Linked DNA regions of Homo sapiens. The protein of the gene in region 3 interacts with the protein of the main gene of each other region in a pairwise test. Each region holds a gene or a part of one and is shown on either strand. Other genes may lie near its edges.

The links.
Region 1: the proteins of LCK (region 3) and SH2D2A interact in binary tests that used the Homo sapiens proteins (3 or more experiments, as listed by UniProt).
Region 2: the proteins of LCK (region 3) and UBAP2 interact in binary tests that used the Homo sapiens proteins (3 or more experiments, as listed by UniProt).

What each region holds. Positions count from the first base shown.
Region 1 is NC_000001.11:156,806,849-156,813,848, forward strand, and holds part of SH2D2A (SH2 domain-containing protein 2A), read right to left. Parts: coding exon 7,000-7,000; intron 2,960-6,999; coding exon 2,813-2,959; intron 2,643-2,812; coding exon 2,355-2,642; coding exon of another isoform or gene 2,289-2,354; exon of another isoform or gene 498-2,288; coding exon 330-497; 3' UTR 327-329; exon of another isoform or gene 1-326. UniProt on the Homo sapiens protein: Could be a T-cell-specific adapter protein involved in the control of T-cell activation. May play a role in the CD4-p56-LCK-dependent signal transduction pathway. Could also play an important role in normal and pathological angiogenesis.
Region 2 is NC_000009.12:33,926,888-33,933,887, reverse strand, and holds part of UBAP2 (ubiquitin-associated protein 2), read left to right. Parts: intron 1-259; coding exon 260-398; intron 399-1,259; coding exon 1,260-1,326; intron 1,327-5,895; coding exon 5,896-6,091; intron 6,092-6,807; coding exon 6,808-6,899; intron 6,900-7,000. UniProt on the Homo sapiens protein: Recruits the ubiquitination machinery to RNA polymerase II for polyubiquitination, removal and degradation, when the transcription-coupled nucleotide excision repair (TC-NER) machinery fails to resolve DNA damage. May promote the degradation of ANXA2.
Region 3 is NC_000001.11:32,275,265-32,282,375, forward strand, and holds part of LCK (tyrosine-protein kinase Lck), read left to right. Parts: intron 1-56; coding exon 57-155; intron 156-304; coding exon 305-408; intron 409-649; coding exon 650-799; intron 800-1,072; coding exon 1,073-1,225; intron 1,226-1,342; coding exon 1,343-1,522; intron 1,523-4,406; coding exon 4,407-4,483; intron 4,484-4,576; coding exon 4,577-4,730; intron 4,731-4,814; coding exon 4,815-4,946; intron 4,947-7,111. UniProt on the Homo sapiens protein: Non-receptor tyrosine-protein kinase that plays an essential role in the selection and maturation of developing T-cells in the thymus and in the function of mature T-cells. Plays a key role in T-cell antigen receptor (TCR)-linked signal transduction pathways.

The DNA of each region.
Region 1 (7,000 bases), about 120 Mb from region 3:
TAAGGACAAATGTAATGCTGCTCATCCTCCCGCTCTTACCCGTGGCAGACATCACTAATCAATCATGTGCTTTTTTTCTGCTGAGTTCAGATATGACCTTAACATCCTTTCCAATGCAGCACTCTAGGCAGCCACGACCAATGGATTGGAGTTGGCATGCAAGATGACACCTCTTTGCCATCCTTGCAATAGATGATGGCTGAGCTCCTTTCCAGCTTTGAACACCTATGGTTTATTCCATCCACATTTCTTGAGAAGTGTGCCAGGTGTGTGTGAAGGTCTCTGGACCTGATGCTCCAAGTTATCCTCACCAAGCTCAGACTTACCGCCTACTGAGGAGGCCCAAGGGGAAGCCATGCCTGTCCTCTGTCCTGAAGCACCTGTCTAGAAAGATTGTGGGGGAGGGTGTGTCTCCAGGCGGGTGGGGGCTGGTGGGGCAGGGGAGGGCCTTGCCCAATCACAGAGTTCTCAGAATGCAGCTGGGAGCCACCTGTATTCTGCAGAGAGAAGGACAGTTCTAGGTCACACCCTCTACCCTCTGCCTCCTAGGTGTACTTGCAGTCTCAAGACATCTGATCTGAACAGACTTTGGCTTCCAGAGAGGGTATCTAAACTCCTCTCATTCATTAATTCAACAAACATCTCCTGAGCACCTGCTCTGTGCCAGGCACTGGGCTGGGTGCTTTGGAAACAGATGGGTAAGTCCCAGCCCCTCCCTTCAGGGAACTCACACTCTAAACTAGGGAAGGGACAGAGAGAAGGAGATGGGAGGAGATGGATGTCTCAGGTGATCAGTGGCATGGCAGGTGTGTGTAAGGCACAGGGGGTGGCCTCTGAGAAGGGAAAGCTGGTCTTGAAGGATGATTAGAAAGTTGCCAGGCAGCGGGAGGATGAGGTTGCAGGAAGTTGCTATAGGCAGAGATACTGGCGGGTGCAAACCCCAGGAGGCTTGAAACCACTTGGTGAGTTTAGAGAAATGTGAATCATTCTAGGAGAATGGGAGTGGCTGGTGGTAAGGCTAAGGAGGTGAGACCCCCCACCCAACCCAAGTCTAGAGTGCTTCATGGGCCAGGCAGCTGCTTCAGCAAGACCATTCTGGCTCTTTGGTGCAGAGTGGATCAGAAGTGGCAAGAATGGTGGTTAGGAAACCAGTTAAGAAGCTCTTGGGAGCCAGGTGAGGTGGCTCGAGCCTGTAATCTCAGCTGAGGTGGGAGGATCACTTGCACCCAGGAGTTCAAGTTTGCAGTGAGCTATGATTGTGCCACTGCACTCCAGCCTGGGTGACAAAGCCAGACCCCAATGATGGGGGCTGGAGCTGGGGGAAGGAAAAATATACTTAGGAAGAGATCCAGCAGGAATGAGTGGCTTACTGGGGGAGTAAAGAGGGAGCTGTGCTGAGGGAGCCCTGGGATTCTGGCTTGGCTAGCTGGGTAGCTGGAGAGTTAGCAATCAGGACAGTGAACATGGGACCGAGCTGTTTGGAGGGCAAGGGTGAGAGCGCTGTTGGCCGTGTTGAGTTTGAGGGGCTCAGGGATGCTGGGGGGAACTGACCAGAAGCTTGGAAAAAAGTTTGGACGGAGATATGGACAGGTGACGTTAGCTCTAGGACAGCAGACGTTGGCAGGGGTGTGGGTGAGCGCGAGCAGGCTCAGGCTGAGCAGGGAGCCTGGGGCACCAGCAAGGAGGGAGGATGGGGAAGGGTCTGAGGAGGGAGGCTGGGGAAGGGCTTTGGGAGGGCCGCAGAGGCCGAGGGAGAGGGTGGGATGGCTGCTGGGGCTAACCCATGGCATGAGGTACTGACTTGAAGGGTAGGCAAGAAGACTTAGGGCTGGGGAGAAGGAAGAGGGAGACAGGGAGTACACAGAAGCAGGCTGGGAGAGCAGGGTCCCCCTCCCCTGAGCTCACTGAGATGACATAAGGGAACCCAAGTGCTCTTTTTCTCCAGGACAGCAGGGCCGTGAAGGCCAAGGGAGAGAGCCAGAGAGGCACGGGGTGGGGTCAGCCCCAGGTGCGTCTGAAGAGGGCCTGCAGGACAAGATGGACGCAGATCAAAAAAGCCTCGATGTGGGAGGTGGAGGGGCACCCTGCCTGGGGGCCTCTGTTTTCTGTGTGAGATAGGAGGGCATGGGGGCTTGACAAAGATGAGGTCTGAGCGACTCTGGGGAGAAGAGGGGGCAGCCTCTGGGCCTGGAGAAGGGAGGCTGGTGCCTGGATCATTCTGTTCTTCCCACATCACCTCACACCTCTGCCCCTTACCCTGCCCCAGGCATCCACTCTGAACACCTTCTTCACCTTCCCCCATCTACCTGCAGGGAGACCTTCTTGCACCTACCTTTCCCTGCATACCCATTTACCTGGCCTCCTGGGACAGGCCTGGACCAGCTCTTCCGTAGGACAGGGTGCCCAAGGGTGGCGGGTAGGCCCTCATCTTCCACTTCCACATAGATGTTGCTGGGGGCTTCCCCAGGGCTGCCCCGGCCCATGGCATAGAAAGCTATGGGTTCATCAGGCTCATTGTAGATAGGATTGGAGGGCTTGGGGCGTGGGGCCGGGCGGTGTCGTGGAACAGGGATTGTGTAGACTTCTGGGGGCAGCTGAGGTTTGGCGGGGATGGGAGGCTTGGGCCTGAGCAGCTGGGAGGGCTGGGAGAGAAGGTGAGGCCAGGGAGGAGTGGGGTGAGGGAGGCAGGGTTAAAGCCCCAGCCTAACTCCCAGCCTGAGCCTCTGCCCCCGCTAGGCCCCTCCTCCTCCCCGCTGCCTGCACCCCCTCGCAGGCCTGTCCTCCCACTCCCTCAGCCCCTGCAGCCCAATACCTCCTTCTCCCCGGCCCCCTCTTTCTGCATCGGGACTGGGGCTTGCCCCTGTTTGATGATTGGGCTGTACTGGGGGTTTGGGTCCTGGCTTTTGCTTCCAAAGTTTGATTCTTCGGTCCTCAGGGAAAGTCCTGCAGGCTCAGGAGTCTGCTGGGAAAGAAGGAGGTCTGAGGCACTCGGTGGAGCGTTGGGGTGGGGGAGGTGATCAGGAGGACAAAATAATCCAGTCTAAGTGGAGGATGGGGGAAGGGGGAGGAGCACAGAAATTTGGCCTGGGCTGGGTTCCCTGGATGAGGAAGAGGGGGTGGTGACGGCAGGGAGACCCAGGGTTGGATGGAGGCAGTGGTAAGCTCTGGTCACAGGCCATATCTAGCATTAAAGTTTTTCTTTTTTAAGATAGAGTCTCACTCTGTTGCCCAGGCTGAAGTGTGGTGGTGCAGTCTCAGCTCACTGCAGCCTTGACCTCCTGGGCTCAAGCTATCCTCTTGCCTCAGCCTCCCAAGTAGCTGGGACTACAGGCATGTGCCACCACACCGGCTAATTGTGTTTTCATTTCTTGTAGAGATGAGGTCTCACTATGTTGCCCAGGCTTGGTCTTGAACTCTTGGGTTCAAGTGATCCTCCCACCTCAGCCTTCTTGCGTCTTAGGATTACAGGCGTAAGCCACCACACTTGGCTGCATTAAACTTAATTTCTTCTGGAACACAGGGCCAGGCCAGATTCCATTTGTGCCTGTGGTTCTGAAAATGCAACATGGCTTTACACGTCTTTAACTGAAAAATTATTGACATGGGGACCAATCTCCATGACAGCTGTGCTTGTGTTTATTTCTGTACTGCCGGTTACTTTATGGAAATATAAGCTATTTTTTTTTTTTTGAGACCAAGTCTCATTCTGTCATCCAGGCTGGAGTGCAGTGGCGCAATCTCGGCTCACTGCAACCTCCGCCTCCTGGGTTCAAGACATTCTCCTGCCTCAGCCTCCCAAGTAGCTAAGATTACAGGCGCCCACCACCACACCCAGCTAATGTTTGTATTTTTTAGTAGAGATGGAGTTTTGCCACGTTGGCCAGGCTGGTCTCGAAATCCTGATCTCAGGTGATCCGCCACTTTGGCCTCCCAAAGTGCTGGGATTACAGGTGTGAGCCACTGCGCCCGGCCATAAGCTAACATTTTTAAGGGCAGAGACCACCTCAGGAGAGAGGAGCCCCATGTGGGATGGTTCCGTCTCACAGAGGGTCTGCTTTTAGCTCCGTGTTAGCCCTTGGTCCATGAATGCTGTCCCCATGCCTGCTGCCACTGTAGGCTAAGGTCACAGGGCTTTTCTTGTGCTCCTGCAATCCACCAAGTGCATGTCTCCATCGGGAGGTGTACTGCAGATATACTGTGGAAATCAAAGAATTCTTTTTCCTGCCCTAACCCCCTCCTCTCTCAGCATCTCCTTCCGGAATAAAAAGTAGCACCTCCACCCTGCTGCCGAAACAGCACCTTAGGAGTCATCCTTGATGCCTCCACCTCCTCCCTCTTGACATGAAATCAAACACAAGTCCTGCTCCTTCCACTGTCTAAATATCGTTCACATCTGAGTACTTTTCTCCATGCACATGGCCAGCACCCTAGTTCAGGCCTCCTGACTCCTCCCCCTGCATCGTCTTGCCCTTCCAATCCACTCTCCAGTCTTCGAGCAGAGCAATCTTACAGAAACTCCCCTAGCAATCCTTGGGTGGCAGCCCATTGCCCCAGAATAAGTCAGACTCCTGAGAGCTTGAGTGACAAGACTCTGTGTGATCTCAGACTTCTACAGCTCTGCCTTCAGGCTTCTCAGGTCAGGCTGGCTCCTCCTCACCCCCAGACTTCCCTACGCCCTGTGAATCTCAGGTCTCTGCCTGTTCCTCACAGAAAAGGCAGTGACCACAGGCACTGTCCCCACTTGTTTTAACTGACCCAAATCAAGTTCTGTGAAACTCTTCTTGTCTAGGTCACCAATGACCTCCTCTCTGTCAAACCTAGTATCAATTCCACCCTCTGCCCTCACCCGCCTTCACTCACTTTCTTCGCTTGGCTTCCAGAGCATCACACTCTTCTGGCTTTTCTCCTCTTTCTGAGCGCTCTGCTCTGTTTTCTTTGTCAGTTCCCCCTCATTTCTGCAAACTCTAAATGCTGGAGACCTGGGCTTCATTTCCTTCCCACCTACACTGACTTCCGAGTGAGATTTCTCCCCTCCTAAAGGTTTTAGAGTCCATCTAAGTGCTGGTGACTCTCAATATTTGTCTGCAGCCCATCCCTTTGTCCCAGTCCCCAGACTCTGAATTCCAGCTGCCTACTTGACATCTCCATGCTGAACTGCACGTGTAGAAAACAGAACTCCTGATCACCTGCCTCCTGCCTGGATGTGTTCCTCCTAGAACTTTTCTCAACTCAGTCAATGACAAGTCCATCTTTTCACACTCCTCATCCAATCCCACAAAAACCCAGCAGCTCCACCTTCTGAGGAGACTTCCACCCTCCTCATGCCTCCTGGAGGCACCCACCTCTGCTACCCTGACCCAGGCTGCCATCATTTCATGTGAAATATTGCTCCTCCCGAAACTTGCCAGGCCATGTCACCCCTCAGCTTGTAAGTCTCCAGTGCCACCTCGTCTCGCTCAGAATAAAACTTCAAATGCATACAAGAGTCTACAGGGCCCCCCTCCCTCACCCCTCTGATCTCATCTCCTACCTCTCTATCCCTCAGTCACCGGATCCACCCATGCTAACTTCCTCTCTGCTCCCATCATTCCTCAGACACACCAAGTCTCCTCCTGCCTCAGGGCCTTTGCACCTGCTGTGCCTGCTGCCGAGAATGCTTTTCCTCCAGTTGTCTGCATGGCTCTTCTCCTATTTCATACAGGCCTCTATTCAGATGTCCGCTTACCCGAGTGGCCTTCCCTGACACCCTGTGTAGAACAGCCCCAATCCTGTCACTCTTCAACAATATTTCACATGAAATGATGGCAGCCTGGGCCAGTGTAGCAGAGGCAGGTGCCTCCAGGAGGCATGAGGAGGGTGGAGGCTGGGTCTGCTTGGAAGGTGGAGCTGCTGGTGGAGCTCTTTGGTTTTCTTGTCAGTGTGTACTCATCATTACTAGACAGACTCTGTCTTCTTTGCTTGTTATCCATATTACTCACTCGTCTGTCTCCTCCTTCTAGAATGGAAGCTCTTGAAGGCAGAGATATTCAGGTCATTTACATTCACTCCTGTTTTTCCAGTGCGCAGAAAGTTGCGTGGCACACAGTGGTCCCTCAGCACTGCCTGAACTTGTGCACCGCTGCCTGCTAGGCTAAATGGTACCCTGTATTTCTTCTTGAATCACAGTCTCCACCCTGGATTTCTATTACTTGTCTGTTTTTGCTGCTGGAAAGTAGGCTTTGTGAGTTTGAGATCCATCTGTCTGTCTTGTTCATGGGTCTGTTCTCAGGGCCTGCCAGCAGTTGGTAGGCCCTAAGTACTCCGTAAGTATCTCTTACATTAAAAAACAAATGACTAGGCTGGGCGCAGTGGCTCACGCCTGTAATCCCAGCTACTCAGGGGTCCCATTCAGGAGACCCCCGCATCCTCCCCTGGCCTCATCCTGGAAGGGCAGCCTGCAGGGGCTGCTACTGCAGCAACAGGGATGGGAAAGTAAGTAGTTGGACTTCCAGATTTCAGAAGTCAAAGCTGAAAATACCAGGTGGAAAATACCAGCATTCGAGGCCTTAGGGATAGGAGGATAATGGGGCCTAGAGGGGGGAAGCTGACTCAGGAGGCTGAGGCAGGAGAATCACTTGAACCCGGGAGGTGGAGTTTGCAGGGAGAGAAGATCGCGCCACTGCACTCCAGCCTGCGCGACAGAGCGAGACTCTGTCTAAAACAAAGCAAAAGAAAACAAAAAACAAAACCCCAAATGACTCTGTGTGCCCCTGGCCTCTCCTTGCCCCTCTGACTCCGTGTGGCTGGGCTGGTCTCTTAAGGACGGTCCCCCAGCACTCATATTTCTCGAAGGGCCTGCCACCCTCCCATGAAGATGAAGATGCCTGGGTAAGGGAGGCATGCCCGAGTGGTGTTTCGGGATGAGAAAGTGCCTGGTGCCGCGTCCTGCGCCTGGGCTCTGAGCGGGAGGGGCGCTGGCCCGAGACCCTGGGCTCTCTGGTCAGGGTCTGGGGCGCGTACC
Region 2 (7,000 bases), on a different chromosome or scaffold from region 3:
GGTTGGGTTATAAAGGTGTCATTTCCTATTCTTTGCTGCATCTTGAACAGCTGACCATGGTGTGGTGTCCTTTGATAGTGTTGTTTGACAGACAAAGGGCTATCTGGCGATATGCTTGGCATTTTCCTGGGGAATGTAACTTTATGGACGTCTCAACTGAGGCTGACATGTCACAAGATATTGAGCATATTTTCAGGCACTTAGGATTGGTTTTAGAAATAAACAGATCTGCTTCTTACAGCTACTTCATCTGTTCCAGCTCCAAAGACAACAGGCCCTCCCTCTGCCCTCCCGTCTGTGAGCTCCCTGCCCAGCACCACCTCCTGCACTGCACTTCTGCCGTCCACATCCCAGCACACTGGCGACCTGACTAGCAGCCCTCTCTCTCAGCTTAGCAGGTATGGGGAAGGTGTGGGCCCAAAGTGAGAAGTACCTTGGGGCAAGTCCTGGAGCTCCTGTAGAAGGTTGCTTTCATGAACAGAGCACACTTGTTGTCTCTGACGTGATGTCCTGGGCTTTTGCATTACGACTGTAGCTTAGGTTTTGGCCAGGTTGTTCCTTAAAACCACCAGATATGGAAACCTTGCCTGCTTGTACCGCCTCTGCTGGCACAGAGCACTGGGTCCCCTGGGAGTAGGGTGAGGCCAGCAGCTCCCTCCTACCTGTCTTCACCCTCCAGAGGGTGCCTGAGCCTAGCCTCTCTGGGCATCGCTGGGCCCATGTCACTGAGGTGGAATGAGAATGATGGATTTCTGAGCAGGTGTCTGACTTGAACTTTCCATGGCTGAAGAAACGATGTTATTAGAACAAGGTGTAGGAAAATGGGTGGCGTTGCTACCTGTGTCTTCTGAGGAGTGTTCTCCATCACTCTTTAGCTAGGAGCAAAAGTGGATTTGATGGGAATTGGCATGTGGAGTTGAGCATAGGAACTTTGATCCCTCGTTCACAGATTGAATGGGATTGTCAAGGATGACCGTGTTCTTAGTGCAACTCTGTCTTCACTTTTCGCATCTGAGGAGCAAATGGATGTCGTTGAGGGAAGCTGGCTCTGGAGTTTTCCAGACCTCATGGCGAGTCATTCCCGTCCACCAGGACCCCATCACTGGGCTCTGTGGGGATAAGGAATGAGGATGGGTCTGAAGCCGGTCCTGTGCTAGGGACTATGATAAGTTTGAATCTAGCTCACTGACCCACGTGCGTCTTGTTCATCTGGAGTCACTTGTTCAGGTGGACATACGGCGCTCTGTTTTGTCTTCTAGTTCGCTCTCCAGCCACCAGAGCAGCCTCTCTGCACATGCAGCCCTCTCCTCGAGCACGTCACACACAGTAAGTGTCTGCGCGGCTTCCTCTTCCTCCGCCATGCTTGGGGAGCCTGGAGCTTAGTCACATGCAGCTGGGGCTTCAGTCTGATTTTTAGTGTCTGATAATCTAGAGTTGCTTGGCTGAAATGTCTTGATGGCATGATCTGGTTCGAGCTTCTGATTTCCTGGGCACCATCTGGGGACATCTTGCTTTCTAAGTTTGTAGCGCCTGGGAAGAATCATTGCTCCAGACCTTATCTGTCATTGGCAGGAGTGTCAGGTGGTGACCTTGCTCCCAGGAATTTGCTGTTTGATCTTTCCTCGTGCCTTCTTTCCTGACTCAGACGCAGAGATTGCAAGAAGGTCAATGTTGGAGAAGGGAGTCTAGATGGTGGAGGGCAGGAGTGGAAGCAAACATGCACTGCCGAGAAGCCAGGCAGGAGGGCTGGAGTCGGCGCGCCAGCTTTAATTTTCCTCATATGCCAAAGAGTAGCCCTAGATTATGGTTATTGAGGTGTGGCTCAGTGGGTCGTGGAGCCGTGAGCATGGCTTTCAGTGGTAGGAGTCAGCCAGATTGTGGTGGGTTGCGGAGTGAATGGTAGTGAGATGGAGAGGAGGGAGGAGGATTGTAGAGGGCATGCAATGAAAACTTAAGAGAGGCTGGAGCCTCTATTGGGAGGATAGAAAGGTGCCTGGATTAACAAAAAGTGCATGCTCCTGGACAACAGGAGGTGTTGGGCGAGGTTGGAGTAGGCAGGTCCACAGGCTGGGAGGAAGGATTAGGGTGCAGACGAATGGAGGAGGCAGGAAACTGATGAACTTGGTGTCCTCTGAAGAAGACAGCAGCTCACCAGCAGAGTGAGGTGGTGGAAAAGGGACATCCTGTCCTTTCCTCTGGATCTGGCTAATGCTGTGGCTTTCATACTCTAGTGTTCCAAGTCAAACCTTACACAGAATCTTTTATCATAAAACACACAAACTGCCACTTTCAAAGGAGAGCATAGTGTGGACACCTCTGCCTGTCCCTCTGCCCCTGCCCTCTGTGGCTCATGGGAGTGGTGAGCTGACCTCAGCAGGAGTGCCGTGGAGCTGTCCTCTGTGTCCGTGCCACTGCTGCCTGGGAGCCCAGTGCTCCTGCACTCATGGGGAGCTGCACTCTCCATCTCCTCAAAAAAAAACCTCCAGACCATGTATTCCAGCCTGCCACAGCCAGAATCGTCTCATCCAGTGGGTCCCATACTTTGTCAGCATGACAGAACTGTGACATTGCTAATACAGTTGTCCCTCCATATATGCAGGGGATTCATTCCAGGACCACTGCATACACCAAAATCTGCACATTCTCAAGTCCCACAGTTGCCCCTGTGGAACCCACCTATAGGAAAAGTCAGCCTTCCAAATATGGGTGTTTTCAAATTATGTATGCGTGCATTGGGTTGAAAAAGAAATCTGCCTGTAAGTGGACCCATGCATTTCAAGCCTGTGTTGTTCAGGGGTCAACTGTTTGTTCATAATATTTCATCTGAAAAGTTATGGAAAGATAGACAATGAAAAGTTTTTCTGTCTCTCATCTACTTGGCTCTACCCTTACATTTTCTCCATCCTTTTAATAAATAAAAGTCAAAACACGCAGTGCATACATGTAGTCATTTCCCCATTATCATCCGCTTTTTTTTTTTTTTTTTTTTTTTGAGATGCAGTCTCACTCTGTCGCCTAGGCTGGAGTGCAATGGCGCAATCTCAGCTCACTGCAACCTCCACTTCCCGGGTTCAAGCGATCCTCCTGCCTCAGTCTCCTGAGTAGCTGGGGTTACAGGCGCATACCACCATGCCCGGATAATTTTTGTATTTTTAGTAGAGACGGGATTTCACTATGTTGGTCAGACTGGTCTCAAACTCCTGACCTCGTAATCCACCCGCCTCGGCCTCCCAAAGTGGTGGGATTACAGGCGTGAACCACCGCGCCCGGCCATCATCTGCCCTTTTTATTCTTTTTCTCTTGTTACATAAATGAGAGTATTTTATGTACAGTGTCCTTCAACTTTTTTTTCCCCACTTGTGTATCCCCACAAGTGTATCTTGATGTTTCCATGTTGAAACTTAAGGGTTTTTTGTTGTTGTTGTTGTTGTTTCCCCACAGTTCTGCTTTATGATGTTATTTAAGGTTATTTAAGCAGCCGTCCATTTAGGGTCGTTTTCAGTCTTGATACCACAGAGAATGTTGCATTTGATAACCTACATATGTTGTTTCATGTGTATAGCTGTATGTAGCGGGTCAGTACGTGATGTGGAACAGCAAGGCATTTATGATTTTATACACATTTGCAGATTGCCCCGCATAGTGATTCAACCCTGTTTACCTCCCACTGGCGGTGAATGAAATATCCTATTACACCATGGCATCCTCAAAATGGTGTTATTAAACATTTGTATTTCCTTAATATGTTAGCAGAAAAATGGCCCATCAGTCTAGTTTTTAATGAGGTTGTACATCCTTTTTTTTATATATTTGAAAACCATTTGATTTCCTTTATGTGAGTTTTTAATTTTTATTTTATTTATTTATTTCTTATTATTTTTCTGAGACGGAGTTTTACTCTTGTGGCCTAGGCTGGAGTGCAATGGCATGATCTCAGCTTAGTGCAACCTCCACCTCCCAGGTTCAAGCAGTTCTCCTGCCTCAGCCTCCCTAGTAGCTGGGATTACAGGCACACGCCACCAGGCCCAGCTAATATTTTTATTATTTTAATAGAGGCAGGGTTTCACTGTGTTGACCAGGCTGGTCTCAAACTCCTGATCTCAGGTGATCCACCTGCCTCGGCCTCCCAAAGTGCTGGGATTACAGGCGTGAGCCACCGTGCCCGGCCTATGTGAGCTATTTATATTCTTGGTTCCTTTTTTTGTCAGGTCTTTGGTCTCTATTTCTATATTAGGGAGCCCTTGGTGATGGGAAGTACAGGTATTTTTCCCTAAGTTTGCTGTTTATGATTTTTTTTTACATAGATCTGTGTATTTTCTTCCATTTTCTTGTAGTTATATCTTTACCACTCTCCATCAATACATAAAGGAAATCTTAGCATCTTCTCCTGCCTTTACTTCTCTGGGCCTGTCCTGGGGAGTTGACTGCATAGGGCCCATTGGATGGACTGAGCGAAGCCTTGAAAATTAGTGTTGACTTTTTAATTCAGCAGGTTGATGTACTCCCAGTTCTGGAAGATGAGGGCCAGAGACAGGAACCCTGTCAGGCAGCTAAGGGAGAAGAGACTTGCCAGATGACTCTTGAGTCCCTTTCAGCAAGTCAGGACCTAGTTCCCTAGTGAGCATCTCTTAGCGATGGAGAATGTTCATTTTTCCTTCCGAGATTAAAAGGTTGTATATATCCAAGTACACTTGCGAGCACTGGTCAGAGCTGCTCCAGATTTCTGTGGCAGTTGGTGGGGAGTCTGCCTCCTTAGTGAGAACCTAGTTGGTGGGCAGGCCAGTGCATCCTTTGGCCCGCTCCTGGTGGGGCTCTCTCCGGCCTGGTCCTGCCCATCTGTGCTGAAGGAACAAGACGCCTTGGAGCCCCAGGAAACCATGTTTTTGGCTGTCTTTACCTTGGTGAATCTGTTCTGGATGTTAGCTCTGTAAAGCCAGTGCCCAGGCGGGTAGTGACCTGTGGGCATGGGATGGCGGCGGAGAGTTAGTCTGCGCAGGCAGGTTGGGTCCTTCTCCTGGGCCCTTCCCGTTCTTTGGCTTTTCTTCTACGAGTTTATATGCTGCTTTCTATGTCCTGGTTTGGAGACTGGTCTCCCTCTTACAGAGCTTTTCTTCCCTTTTTTGAGACTTGCCTTGTCCACCTAGGTGTGCCCCCCACCTACCTGCTCGGAGCTTGAAGTTCTTCATAGGACCCTGTTGCTAGGGTTGGGCAGCTAGGCAGGGCTTCTGGGACTCGGGGCTGATGGAGCATCCGCTGGTTCACTCTTTCTTCACAGGGGTACCTTGTCAAACAGGCATAAGTGGCAGGCCATGCCCTTTTAGGTGGGCACTGGTGAGGCATTGGTGGACTGAAAGGTGTCACCAGGTTTTGGAGCAAAGGCCTCTCTCAGCCTCCTGTTTCCAGACCACAGTGGCTGAGAATCCCAATAGAAGGGAAATCTCCAAAAGATTGAGACTTACGCTGGGCTTCCTGTGGCCTGTGCTCGCCTCTTCTCAGACTGTTTGCTTTGCTCTGAGGTAGGTACTTGTCCCATATTCAGATAGTCTGTGTTCATTTATGATCCGAAGTTATCTTGGGATTTCTATGCCCTCATTTTGGATGCCAAGCATGAGCAACTTGAAGGATTTTTACAGAGAGTTGTGGTCATTAAAGCTTAATGTTAATAGTTTTGATGTTCAGTTTATGTATTGTATCCTGATGGCTGGAACCAGCTGCTATGTGAGGGGCCGCAGTGAGCACTGAGCACAGAGCCTCTCACCTTAAGGGAGCCTGGGTGGTTACATCATTGCCTGCCTGCTCAGCCTTGAGACTTGGGCCCAAGCGCCAGGCCAGGCTCTCCCCAGCACCCTCCTCCTCTGCCTCCAGATCCATGTGTCCTGGCTTTTCTTTTGCCAGCATGCCAGTGTGGAGAGCGCCTCTTCCCACCAGTCCTCAGCCACCTTCTCCACGGCAGCGACCTCCGTCTCAAGTTCCGCATCCTCAGGCGCCAGCCTGTCCAGTAGCATGAACACCGCGAACAGCCTCTGTCTGGGTGGGACCCCCGCGAGTGCATCCAGCAGCAGTAGCAGGGCCGCGCCCTTGGTGACCTCAGGTATTTGCTCCAGAGGCCTTTCCTGCCCACCCCTGAGCCCCTCAAAGGTGCCTGCTTGGCGTCCCAGGAAGGCAGTGCAGGTGTCAGGAGAGTCTCAGGCCCGCCGAGTGCGCTGCGTGTTCCACTGACCTTGAGGCCCAATCTCCCCACCCCTGATGGGGATGAATTCTTCCTTGCAGGATTCCTGGCCTCTGCGTGCTTCTAGCTTTTCAGTCTTTCCTCTTTGTTCTTTCCTGGAGCCGAGTTGACATTGTGACTTGGAGGGGCCAGGGATGACTTATGGTGGGCTCCACGACTGCAGACCTAGGCTGTCTGTAGGCCCAGCAGACTATGATTTGATGGTCGCTGCTAAAACCGACTTCGAACTCAGCCTGTCCCTCTCCTGGCACTGCATGGCTTCCTTGCCCTCTTTGGAGGAGGCAGATTCTTTTTATATTTCTCTTTGCTCAGTGCAGTGGGACCTTAGGGACTGGGGGAAAGGGGCTGCTTTTGTCTGGGCCCGGAACTCTCTGACGTTGAAACAACCTCAGTGTGGTGGCCGGGCTTTCTGTCTCCCCTTCACTGCTTTGTAGAATGACCCTCTGCCTCATTCGGCCACTGCCCTTCTTTGAACCCATCTGGGGTAGCTCAGTGACTGTGCCTCCTCCTGAAGCAGCTGAGGACTCTCACTCTTTGTGGTGACCATTTCACTCCATTTGATTTTTCCCTCTATACAGGCAAAGCACCCCCAAACTTACCTCAGGGGGTGCCTCCCCTGCTGCACAACCAGTACCTCGTAGGTCCCGGAGGACTGCTTCCTGCCTACCCGGTGAGTGTATGGCGGAACTCCTGGCCTGCCCAGCTCCCCTGGCCTCGGGGGCTGGCACCTGGCAGGAACCTGGCGTTGGGCCCAGGTTGCCCACCTTGAGC
Region 3 (7,111 bases):
GGAGGGTCTCAGGTCGACGGCTGAGCGAGCCACACTGACCCACCTCCGTGGCGCAGGAGCGGCGAGTGGTGGAAGGCGCAGTCCCTGACCACGGGCCAGGAAGGCTTCATCCCCTTCAATTTTGTGGCCAAAGCGAACAGCCTGGAGCCCGAACCGTAAGTGGGGACCCGTCGTGGGGGTGGGTAGGAGCAGATCTAGGGATCCTGGAGCAGGGAGTAGGCCTGGGGTGGCGGTGAAGGCTTGAGGGCCACGGAGGAAGATCCGACGACAGCCGACGGCCTTCGTTCGCTTCCGCCCTGCACAGCTGGTTCTTCAAGAACCTGAGCCGCAAGGACGCGGAGCGGCAGCTCCTGGCGCCCGGGAACACTCACGGCTCCTTCCTCATCCGGGAGAGCGAGAGCACCGCGGGTGAGCGGGCGGCGGTCTCGACCGGGCGCGGGGGTGCCCCGGGGTGTGCCCGAGGGGGGGCGCAGGGTGAGCCCGAGGTGGAGACACGGGGTGAGTCGGAGGGGGACGCGGGATGAGCCCGAGGTGGGGGCGCGGGATGACCCGGAGTTGGGGGTGCTGGGTGAGCCCAAGGTGGGGGCGCGGTGGCGGGCCAGACTCACTGCGTTCTTTCGTCGCTTTGTCCATCCATTCATTCATTCAGGATCGTTTTCACTGTCGGTCCGGGACTTCGACCAGAACCAGGGAGAGGTGGTGAAACATTACAAGATCCGTAATCTGGACAACGGTGGCTTCTACATCTCCCCTCGAATCACTTTTCCCGGCCTGCATGAACTGGTCCGCCATTACACCAGTGAGCCCGACGGGACCCCTCCCCCGTGCCCTATCAGCCTATCTCCCCTCAGTCCCCCTCAGGTGTCCCCCATCCATCTTTCAATGCCCTACTCCATTCCCCGCAGTGGGTGAGGTGTGGAACCTGACCCTACGGCCCCAAGTGTTTGGGTGACAGCCCCACACCCCCTTGCTAGTCCACTTCACCTAGATGGGGGCTTGGAGAAGTGGGGGAGGTGGTGTCAATACGAGGCCTGCCCTATTGACAGCCTTCACCCCTCCCTCGTCCTCGCAGATGCTTCAGATGGGCTGTGCACACGGTTGAGCCGCCCCTGCCAGACCCAGAAGCCCCAGAAGCCGTGGTGGGAGGACGAGTGGGAGGTTCCCAGGGAGACGCTGAAGCTGGTGGAGCGGCTGGGGGCTGGACAGTTCGGGGAGGTGTGGATGGGTGAGTGTGGCCTCCAGGACTGCCTGGGAAGAGGGGAACGGGAGGGGCCGCTGAGGTGATGAGAGTCCCAGGACAGCTGCCTGGCGACTTTCCCACTCCTTCCCTTCCCCGACCCAGGGTACTACAACGGGCACACGAAGGTGGCGGTGAAGAGCCTGAAGCAGGGCAGCATGTCCCCGGACGCCTTCCTGGCCGAGGCCAACCTCATGAAGCAGCTGCAACACCAGCGGCTGGTTCGGCTCTACGCTGTGGTCACCCAGGAGCCCATCTACATCATCACTGAATACATGGAGAATGGTGGGTGCTACCCGAGTCGGCTACCAGGGGATACTGCTCTCCCTGCTGTCCCTGCCAGAGGGTGGAAATACACCTTTTCTTCTGGCCCAAAGCTCAAGCAAGGAGGGTTTCTTGAGCTTTCCTGCCCCCTGGAGACTCACCTCCAGCCGGGCGCGGTGGCTCAGGCCTGTAATCCCAGCACTTTGGGAGCCGAGGCGGGCAGATCACGAGGTCAGGAGTTCGAGACCAGCCTGACCAATATGGTGAAACTCTGTCTCTACTAAAAATACAAAAAGTAGCCAGGTGTGGTGGCACATGCCTGTAATCCCAGCTACTCAGAAGACTGAGGCAGGAGAATCCCTTTAATCCGGGAGGTGGAGGCTACAGTTGCAGTGAGCTGAGATCATGCCACTGAACTCCAGCCTGGGTGACAGAGCAAGACTCTATCAAAAAAAAAAAAAAAAAAAAGACTCACCTCCAGGCATGAGAAAAAGGTGTATCCTCTGATCTGATCCTGTCTGGGGGCAAGCCTAAGGTGGCAAGAATGTTCTGGAAGAGCATTCACCCCAACCTTCCCTGACCTGCCATTCTGTTTGCCTTCTTCAAAGCCCTACCTTGATCTCAGGATGCTTGATCTCAGAAAGCAAGTGGGTCCCTAGCCCTGTTTCTCTCCCTTCTGCCCCTGAGCCCTAGGAGGGCAGATCTGCCCCCAAAGCCCTCTTTTTCAGTTCTGAGTGAGACCCCCACCCCTGCACCCCTCTTGGTCTGTTACTGGACAGAGTGAGAGCCCCAGGAAGAGGAATATGAGTTTCTAGCTTCAGCTTTGTTCACACCGATTTGCCGTGTGACAGGCCAAGTGCCTGCACTGTCTCTGGTGCTCAGTTTCCCCAAGTATAACAGCAGAAATCTAAATGGGCTCACCAGAAATAATACAGAGTATTCATCAAGGCCTCTAGAGTCTGACTGCCTGGGTCAGAAGCCTGGCTTCATGATTTTATGGCTTTGTGATAATTATATCACCTCTTTCTGCCATGGTTTCCTACTATAATAACGCGTTAGTAACTTCCTCACAGGGTCTTGTGAGGATGAAATAATTAATGCATACAGAGCAGTTAGAACTATGCCTACTTCCAGGTGCTGTGGCTCAAGCCTATAACTCCAGCACTTTGGGAGGCCAAGGTGGGTGGATCACTTGAGCCCAGAAGTTCAAGACCAGTCTGTGCAACATAGCGAGACTTCATTCCTACAAAAAAATGTTTAAAAATTAGCTGGGCATAGTGGTGTATGCCTGTAGTCCCAGCTACTTGGGAGGCTGAGGTGGGAGGATCACTTGAGCCCAGGAGGTTGAGGCTGCACTGAGCTGTGATTGCACCACTGCACTCCAACCTGGGTAACAGAGCGAGACCTTGTCTCAAAACAAAAAACCCACAAAACTATGGCTACCATATAGTAACTGATCAATAAGTTTGTTGCTGTTATCTGGCTCTGATTCTTTGGGAGTGTAAGATCTATCCTTTTTTCAGGAAGAGAAACAAGCTGTTCATTGGCTAATGGGAAATGGCAAATAGATTATGTCATGTGTATCTTTTTTTTTTTTGAGTCTCACTCTGTCCTCCAGGCTGGAGTGCAGTGGCATGATCTCGGCTCACTTCAGCCTCCCCCTCCTGGGTTCAAATGATTCTCATGCCTCAGTCTCCCAAGTAGCTGGGACTACAAGCATGTGCCACCATGCCTGGCTAATTTTTGTATTTTTAGTAGAGACAGGTTTTCGCCTTGTTGGCTAGGCTGGTCTCGATCTCCTGTCCTCAGGTGATCCTCCCGCCTTGGCCTCCCAAAGTGCTGGGATTACAGATGTGAGCCACCATGCCCAGCCTATCATGTGTATCGACTTTGATTGGTAGTTGCTTGTAGTGCTGGAGAAGGATTCTGAGGTTCATTGGAAGTGAGTGCCAGGAATGATTAGTAACATCTGCCATGGATACAATGGAAGAATGGCAGTATATCTATGTCTATGTATTTGCTGTGTGTAGGTGAGGTCTTTGTCTTTGGTAACTAGTTCAGCACTCAAAGTGGGGACACTCAGGTTGCTGTCATCCTTTTACAGGGTTTTAATCTCTTGGGAAGGGCCATTGGTCACTCACTGCATCCTAGCAACTCCCATCCATGTCCAGCTGCCCTCCACTATTAGAGAGGTGGTCCCTCAGACCCCCAGACCCCCTCTTTCTTATTCCATCCAATATATTCAGCACATAGTTATTGTTTCTTACTCTCGGCTGGGCACCAGGAACATGGATGGATGAAACAAGGTTCCTGTTGTCAGGGAAACCTGATTTTAGTTACAGCTACTGGGGAAACCAGAGTTTGTGCCATGGGAAAGTTCCAGCATGCCCATGGGAGTGTAGATGATGATCCAGTTTATTATGCCTGGTAGGATCTAGAGAGGCTTCCTAGTGGGGCAGTCTAGCAGGGCCACGAAAGAAAAGTAGAATTTTTTTTAGCAGGCAGAGATGAAACAAAGAGGCTTTGGGGTGAGAGCCTAGTGGTCTGAGTGCAGGATCTCAAAATTGCTAAACTGTTTGAAGTCAAAGGCAGAGTGGGGGAAAGAGAAGAAGCTACCAGTGTGGACCATGCCAAGCTTAGGATACTAGTTGAGGATTCTAGGTTCTACCTTATTGGTGATGAAAAACCTACAGATCCCTCCCAGCATGCTCTACCCTAGCCCCTCTGCAAAAAAACCTTTACATATCCTGGGCATCCTTACCCTGAACACACACTCCTCCATTCTCACTCTTCAATCTTCCTTTTCACATGTCAGACACACTTCTAGACTCCCAGTTGGAGGAGAAAGGTCTGGGGGCCTCCCCCTGGGGCAACTTGGGCCAGCAACTCTTGCTTCTGCCCACAGGGAGTCTAGTGGATTTTCTCAAGACCCCTTCAGGCATCAAGTTGACCATCAACAAACTCCTGGACATGGCAGCCCAAGTAAGGAGACTGGGGAGGGGGGCTGGGCAAGGGAACAGACCAGTGACGTGAAGACATCTGGCTCAGGACCGCTGATCTGTGTTTGGCCTGCAGATTGCAGAAGGCATGGCATTCATTGAAGAGCGGAATTATATTCATCGTGACCTTCGGGCTGCCAACATTCTGGTGTCTGACACCCTGAGCTGCAAGATTGCAGACTTTGGCCTAGCACGCCTCATTGAGGACAACGAGTACACAGCCAGGGAGGGTACGTGTGAGATTTAAGGGTGGTCTGGGCCCTGCAGGGTCTGGCCAAGCAGACCCAGGTGACCTCACTCTGCCTCCTCCTTAGGGGCCAAGTTTCCCATTAAGTGGACAGCGCCAGAAGCCATTAACTACGGGACATTCACCATCAAGTCAGATGTGTGGTCTTTTGGGATCCTGCTGACGGAAATTGTCACCCACGGCCGCATCCCTTACCCAGGTTAGAGCCAAGGGCAGGAACTGAAAGGGTGATGGGAAGGGCAAGTCCATGTCTTCCCATTCAATTCTTTCCAGTCTCAGAATCTGAAACTTTGTAGCTGCATCTCCTCTATCTTCTCAGGGGTATGAGTCCAACGTCCCCAGGCAGATGCCACATCTCCCAGGGCTGGCTTCCATCTCCGTATCTCTCTTTAATAACCCCAGCTCTTTTCTTTTTCTCTTTTTTTCTTTTTCTTTTTTTTTTTTTTTTTTTTTTTTTTTTTTGAGACGGAGTCTTGCTCTGTCTCCCAGGCTGGGGTGCAGTGGCGCCATCTTGGATCACTGCAACCTCTGCCTCCTGGGTTCAAGTGATTCTCCTGCCTCAGCCTCCCAAATAGCTAGGATTACAGGTACGTGCCACCATGCGCAGCTAATTTTTTGTATTTTTAGTAGAGACAGGGTTTCACCATGTTAGCCAGGATGGCCTCAATCTCCTGACCTCGTGATTGGCCTGCCTCGGCCTCCCAGTGTTGGGATTACAGGCGTGAGCCACCACACCCGGCCCCAGCTCTTTTCTTTAGTTCTGGCCCAGGCAGCCTGGTATGGTAGAAGAAGATCTAGCTCAGGAACAAGAGGCCTACCTTTTATCAGCAGATCTGCCACTGTTGCTAACTTTCTGTTTGGCTTTGTTCAGATCATTACTGTAACTAGTGAAGCTAGTCACTTCACTTCTCTAAGCCTCAGTTTCCTGATACTAAAAATAAGAGACTAGGCCAGGTACAGTGGCTTATGCCTATAATCTCAGAACTTTGGGAGACCAAGGTGGGAGGACTGCTTGAGCCCAGGAGTTCGAGACCAGCCTGGGAAACTGGTCGAAACCCCATCTCTACAAAAACAAAAGTTAGCCAGGTTTGGTGGCATGTGCCTCTAGTCCCAGCTACTCAGAAGGCTGAGGTGGGAGGATCACCTGAGCCAGGGAGGCAGAGGTTGCAGTGAGCCAAGACCATGCCATAACACTCCAGCCTAGGGCAATAGACCAAGACCCTGTCTCAAAACAAGAAAAAGAGAGACTCCATCTCTACAAAAAAAAAAAAACAAACAAACAAAAAAAACATTTAAAAATTAGCTGGGCATGGTGGCACACACCCGTAGTTTCAGCTATTTGGGAGGCTGAGGTGGGAGGATCATTTGAGCCCAGGAGGTTGAGGGTGCAGTGAGCCATGATTGTTCTATTGCACTCCAGCCTGAGCAACAGAGAGAGAATTTGTCTCAAAAAAAAAAAAAAAGAAAAAGAAAAAGAAAAAAGAAAAAATGAGAGACCATTTGTGAAAGAGCCTGACTCATAGTAGGTTGTCAGTATACACTGACTCCTCCCACCATCTCCTGGACAAAGCCCTTTACCCCTGAATTCAGCCAAGACAGGGATGGAATTTTTGAAAGGAACTTGCTAAGAAACTCTGGGGAAAGGAAATGGAGCATAAAGACAGGAGTAGGGGGGTCATGCGGCACAGTGGCTAGATTTGTAGAAGCTTCCCATATCCCCAGAGCAAGGTGAACAGACCTTTGCTCCAAGGAAGGTAAAGACACCTTGGAAGGCCGGATGCAGTGGCTCACACCTGTAATACCAGCACTTTGGGAGGCCGAGGCGGGTGGATCACAAGGTCAGGTGTTCGAGACCAGCCTGACCAACATGGTGAAACCCCGTCTCTACTAAAAAAAATATATATAAAAATTATCTGGGCATGGTGGCACGCGCCTGTAACCCTAGATACTCAGGAGGCTGAGGCAGGAGAATTGCTTGAACCCAGGAGGCAGAGGTTGCAGTGAGCTGAGATCATGCCACCGCACTCCAGCCTGGGTGACAAAGTGAGACTCTGTTTCAAAACAAAAACAAAAACAACCACCTTGGAAACAGGTGAAAAGCTGAGGGGCTTCCCTGCCCTGGGCTTGCCCCAAACCAGCGTCCAGGGGTAGTGCTGGAGCTGGAAATACAGAAATATTCTCCAGTTATCCTGCCAGGGGTCCTCACTGCTCCTTCCCGGTTCCCACAGAGGCAAACCCATAGGGAATGTATCTATTAGAAGAAAATAGGCAGTGAAAGCATGATGATAAATGGCAACTGACATATAGCATTAGGGTCAGGGAGACAATGGGGAGAAATGGGGACCTTGGTAAACTTGCAGCTGC